Regions from separate parts of the Homo sapiens genome. Here region 2 is linked to region 1. Evidence: fine-mapped expression QTL. A gene starts in region 1. The other region holds a variant in brackets. All regions are shown on one strand. Distances are between the middles of the regions. Region 1 holds the start of EXT2 (exostosin glycosyltransferase 2). Region 2 overlaps EXT2 (exostosin glycosyltransferase 2).

Region 1 (3,029 bases):
AGCACTTACCTGACTTACAAGAAGTTAAGACTTACAAGAATTTAAATGTACATATTTCAAGACCATATCTTCACATAAATAAGTCAAGAACCTTTCTAGATTAGCATTGCCCAATCAGTAACACCAAGCAATTCTTTGATTCTCAAAATTGTGTGTTTAGATCTGGTTCCCACCGAATGTAACAAAGCCCCAAACACCTCTGGACTTCAAGTTGAAGCCCAGAGCCAGTGTGCTTCTGGCCACCTAGTCCCGAGACTAACATGCCCCTGGCCCCGGCCCGACACACCCCCGGGCCACCTAGTCCCTGGCCTAACATGCCACCAGCAATCTAGTCCGCAGTCTAACATACTCCTGCCCCGTCCTGACAGGCCCCCGGCCACCCAGTCCCCTGCCTAACACGCCCCCAGCCACCTAGTGCCTGGCCCAACATGACCCCGGCCACCCAGTCCCCGGCCTAACACGCCCCCGGCCATCTAGTTCCCGGTCACCCAGTCCCCGGCCTAACACGCCCCCGACCACCCAGTCCCCGGCATAACATGCCCCTGGCCCCTTCCCTACCTCGTCCCACGGCTTCTGGCACCGCAAGGGATGCCGCAGGCCACCACCGGACCCTGAGGCGCAGGACATCCCCCTGGGAGGAATCAGATCCCTGTGGCTGGCGGGAAGGTGGCAGCAGGAAGGGAGGGGTCACGGCGGAGGGCGGAGGGCGGGTCGCAGGAGGAAAGGAAGGAGCGGACTGGGGGCGAAGGTTGGCTAGGAGAACAGGTGGGTACCAAGATGCTGAAAGCGCGGCCGCCGCCGGAGGAGAAGGAGAAGCAGGAGTGGAAATCGGAGCGCTCCAAAAGCGGGCAGTCATTGTCACAGCCCCGGCGGGGCTGGGGGTGGCCTCTCGCAGCCCACGGGCCTCCACGGAGCCTCCGCGCGGCCGCGCTCCCTCGGCCCTTGTCCCGACCCAGCAGCGGCCCCCGGAGGCCCGAGCCCTCGCTTCAGCGCCCGCCCGGCCGCCGCCCTGGAGAGCCGCGCTTACCTCGGCCACGGCTGCCTCCCGCTCGGCCCCGAGCTTGGTCACCGGCTCATGCCGCGGGGCGCGGGCCACCTCCGCCCAGGTCGGATCGGTCCGAATCGCCAGCCGCCACTGCCAGGGCCGAGTCTGGGCTGGCGAGCAGCGAGCGAGGGGCCGGTAACCGGGATCCGGGCCGTCTGACACCGAGCGCACTGCGCATGCGGGAGCTGCCGGGCCGCGCCTCCTGCTGGACAGGAGGAGTCCGAGCACCGCTGCAGTGTTTTCCCAGGCAGGCGCGCTCAGGCTCCGCAGTGAAATGCTCAGACAGCCTCATTCATAATTAAAGAATCCTTAAACCCAAACGAGACACCACGCGTTGCTTATAAAACTAACAAATATGTAGACGTTTTATTATAATCAGTTCTGGTGAGCGTATAACATTCCTGGAGGGCAATTTGGTACTATCCATCAAACGGAAAATGCTGGTACCCTTCATTCCAACAAGCTCTCTGTACGGAGTTTGCCCTATGGATATTCTCAACAATGTTTGTCAAAAAGTTCCATGACAGCATTCTTTCTAATCATAGCGAAATGCTAGACACAATCGAAATAAATTATGGAATTTGATTGATTTGAGTAATGTGAGATAGTGCAATATATTTGGGTAAGGAAATATCTCCAAGATATTAGTTAAGATCAAAGCGTAGTCCAAAACAGCGGGCAAGTCACTTTTAGGTAAACTATGCATATGCAAAAACAAGAGGGAGAAATATATAAAGTAGGTGCTTATATTCAGGCATGTGTATAACTTTTTTCTGGAAGGAATGCAAGAAGAAATGAACAGCTTCAGGTGGAGTAGTTGTCGAGGCGGAAATGGAAGCATTTATGGCGAGGAAAGGTGGCTCACGCCTGTAATTCCAGCATTTGGGGAGGCCTAAACGAGAGGATCGCTTGAGCCCAAGAGTTTGAGACCAGCCTGGGCAGCAGAGCAAGACCCCATCTCTACAAAAAATAAAAAGTTAACTAGGCATCGTAGCACACGCTTGTAGTCCCAACTACTTAGGAGGCAGAGGCAGGAAGATTGCTTGAGCCCAGGAGGTCAAGGCTGCAGTGGGCCGTGGTCGTGCCACTGCACTCCAGCCTGGGTGATAGAGCAAGACCCTGTCTCCAAAAAAAAAAAAAAAAAACGCATTTTTGTTTTGTATCTTTCTCTATTATTTACATGATTTAGCCCTATCCATGCACACTAAAACCGCTGTCATAAAGCAGTAAGTGGAAACTAAAAAATTAAATTAAAATTCAGAGCGATGTTATTGAGAGGTTAATGAAATGACCCCTGGGCCTGCGATGTTGGTTTGGTAGAGTTGTGGGTCTGGCTACAGGATCCAAATCCCTTCTGGTCCCAGATGTACTTTGGCGCCATCTGGTGGAAGTTGTCACTGATAGCTTAAATATTCAAAGTGATGATTCTGAGACTAGATACCTACAGAGGCTTCCGGCAGCAACCTCGATTCCAGGGATATTTTTGTGAGTTAATGCCTGCTTGTCACAGATCTAGGGAGATTGGGATGAGGACATTCTGGGGATGGGACACTCATGTTCTGCTTCCCCACATCCAAGGGGGCATTGCTCTGCTTTCCAAATCAAATCCCCCCTGCAAATGATACAAAATGTAGCACACACCCACCCCATTTGAGAACTGGATGGGTGGAGAGCAGTGACAATCACCACTGGAACTGTATCCAAATTTATCTTATCCCAGGGAATATTGTTTTCACTTTTTGAAATAAGTCAACAATAGCTATCTGGTCTGGAAGATTGTGGCCTCTTTTTTTCTTCTCCATATTTATCTGTATTTTAAACATGTATGTTTTTAATTAATCCTTTGTTCTTTTATAAAATGAGAATTTGCCGTGTTAAAGAACTGTGTGAGGCACAGCCTCACACAATGCTGCCTATCTTCTTCATTTTTTATAACCTTAAACTTGCCTAATGCCTGGCATATAGTTAATTGCTCAATAAATAG
Region 2 (2,500 bases), 67 kb before region 1:
AGCCCTGTGTCCAACAGGCTCTTTGGTGCTCACTGGTCCTTTTGACAGCACAAGAGCAGGGAGTCTGGTGTCCTTCTTGGACAACCTCATAACAGTCTGAAGGTCCCAGAGATAGGCTCTAATAATCTTCATCTGACAGCTCAAAAAGCTCAATAATAAGGCCAAATTATAACCCAAGCATCCTTACTTTTAGTTTAGAATTACTGTAAGCAAGATTTTTTTGTTTATTCTTTTACATACTCCATTTTCATAAATATAAGAGTTACCTGACAACTAACTTAAAATTCGAGGGAAAAAAATATCAGCAAAACCCTTTAAAGGCACTTCTTGTGGACTGGAGGTTTTTGAAGACATTTACTATGCCCATGTTACCAGTTTCTCCAGAAGAGCAGAGGAAGTTCACAAATATCTGATATCCCTTTAACTTGGGGATCCAACAAACAGCAATTAATAGAACTTACTTTCTTTAACATAAAAAGGGATTTTGAAGCAAAAAGGTTAATATACCTGGGATTTATCCACATACTAATCATTTTCTTTACTTAAAATATTTATTTTGTTAATTTAGTTGTATGTAAAACACCTTGCCGCATAAAACATGAGACGGCTTTTTTTCACTTCCTTATTCATGAAGCTGTTTTATTTGCCTTCTCCACATGCAACTCCTGGAAACATGTTTCTATTAATCCAGTACATTTTCCCAGCCCCACCATCTTCACCTATCAGTTACATAAAGACAGTAATTTAGGAACCCACCCATATGGCACTTGCTGAAAGTTTATAGAAAGCCACACACAATGGTTCACCTAACTGCAGCAGAATTCATTTTATAAGTTTTTGGTAGGTTTCAGTATTTGTCTATTGCTTTGCTATGCAAAGTGGTAACTGCTTTTTTTTTTTTTTTTTTTTTGAGATGGAGTCTCACCCTGTCCCCCAGGCTGGAGGGCAGTGGTGCGATCTCGGCTCACTGCAACCTCAGCCTACTGGGTTCAAGCGATTCTCCTACCTCAGCCTCCCGAGTAGCTGGGATTACAGACGTCTGCCACCATGCCTGGCTAATTTTTGTATTTTTAGTAGAGATGCAGTTTTGCCATGTTGGTCAGGCTGGTCTTGAACACCTGACCTCAGGTGACCTGCCTGCCTCGGCCCCCCAAAGTCCTGGGATTACAGGCATGAGCCACTGAGCCCAGCTGGTAATTGCTTTTATAACTTTTTATTTTGTAATACTTTTAGACTTAGTGAACAGTTGCAATAGTAGCCAGAGAGTTCTCAAATATCTGGAATGCCCCTCATCCAGCTTCTCCTAATGTTAACATCTTACATCACCATGGTACAATTATCAAAACCAAGAGGTTAACATTGGTACAATTCTATTAACTAAACAACATACTTTTTTTCTTCTCCAGATTCCCAGTTTTCTCCTAAAGTCCTTTTTCTGTTCCAGGATCTAATCCAGGACACCA[T/C]AGTGCATTTACTTGTCATGTCAGCTCAGTCTCCTCTAATCAGGGACAGTTTCTCAGTCTTTCCTTGTCTTTCATGACATTGACATAGTTGACAGTACTGGTCAGGACTTTCATATAGAATGTCCCTCAATTTGGGTTTATCCGATGTTTTCTACTTATTAGATTGAGGTTATAGATTTTGGAGAATACTACAGAGATGATGTACCCTTCCCTTCACACTCCATCAGGGGACATATGCTACCAATATGACTTATTAAAAGTAACGTTAACCTTGCTCACATAGTTAAGGTGAGGTCTGCCAGGTTTTCCCACTGCTAAATTACTACTGTTCCCATCCCATAGTCTATGCTCCCTAGAAGCAAGTCACTATGTTCAGTCCATACTGAAAGGGAGAGTAATGAAGCTTCACCTCCTGGAGGAAGAAGTATCAAAGAATTTAGCACACTATTTTTAATGTACTTTGAAAGGATTAAAAACTATGAAATTGTATTCACTGAATATTACTTTTTTTTTTTTAAGAGCCAGGGTCTTGCTCCATTGCCCAGACTGGAGTATAGTAGCTATTCACAGGCACGATCATTGCACACTACAGCTTCAAACTCCCAGGCTCAGGTGAACCTCCTGTCTTGGCCTCCTGAGCAGCTGTGGCTAGAGGTGCATGCCATTGATCCTGGCTTACAATTTTTTAACATACATAAAGTATGGCATTCTGTCAAAATCTTTAAACTTATGGGGATTTGTGGCTGGAGAAAAATATTTAAATGTTTTCTTTCCTCAGTAATAAGTTCACAGCAATAAAAAATCTGACATTTGCCTTAAATGTTAAGTTGAAGCCTGCTAACATATCTCACCTATTTAAAAGTATATAGCCACTTTTTATATTTAAAATCTTAGAGATGAAATCTACTGAGACTTCAGATATTTCCAAAATTCCAACTGCTTCTAGTCCCACACTTTAATTTTATTTTGATGTATATGCCAAATTATCATACAAAAATAAAGTAAGCATCCAACTTAATGTGGAAAATGAAACAAAT

What was found. PIP is the estimated chance that this variant, and not a neighbour inherited with it, causes the effect. A credible set is the group of variants that fine-mapping cannot tell apart.
Region 2: its variant is the best candidate, but not a certain one, in a credible set for the expression of EXT2 in whole blood (INTERVAL, PIP 0.77).

What each region holds. Positions count from the first base shown.
Region 1 is chr11:44,093,851-44,096,879 of GRCh38, reverse strand. It overlaps EXT2 (exostosin glycosyltransferase 2), which reads right to left and starts at 1,202. Exons shown (of 14, transcript NM_207122.2): 1 at 1,028-1,202. RefSeq lists an enhancer at 246-295 and a silencer at 716-1,335.
Region 2 is chr11:44,160,986-44,163,485 of GRCh38, reverse strand. All of the region lies in intron 7 of EXT2 (exostosin glycosyltransferase 2), which reads right to left. Among named protein-coding and RNA genes, the nearest start is that of EXT2, 67 kb to the right of the region's middle. The variant T/C (reference allele first, on the strand shown) is at 1,464.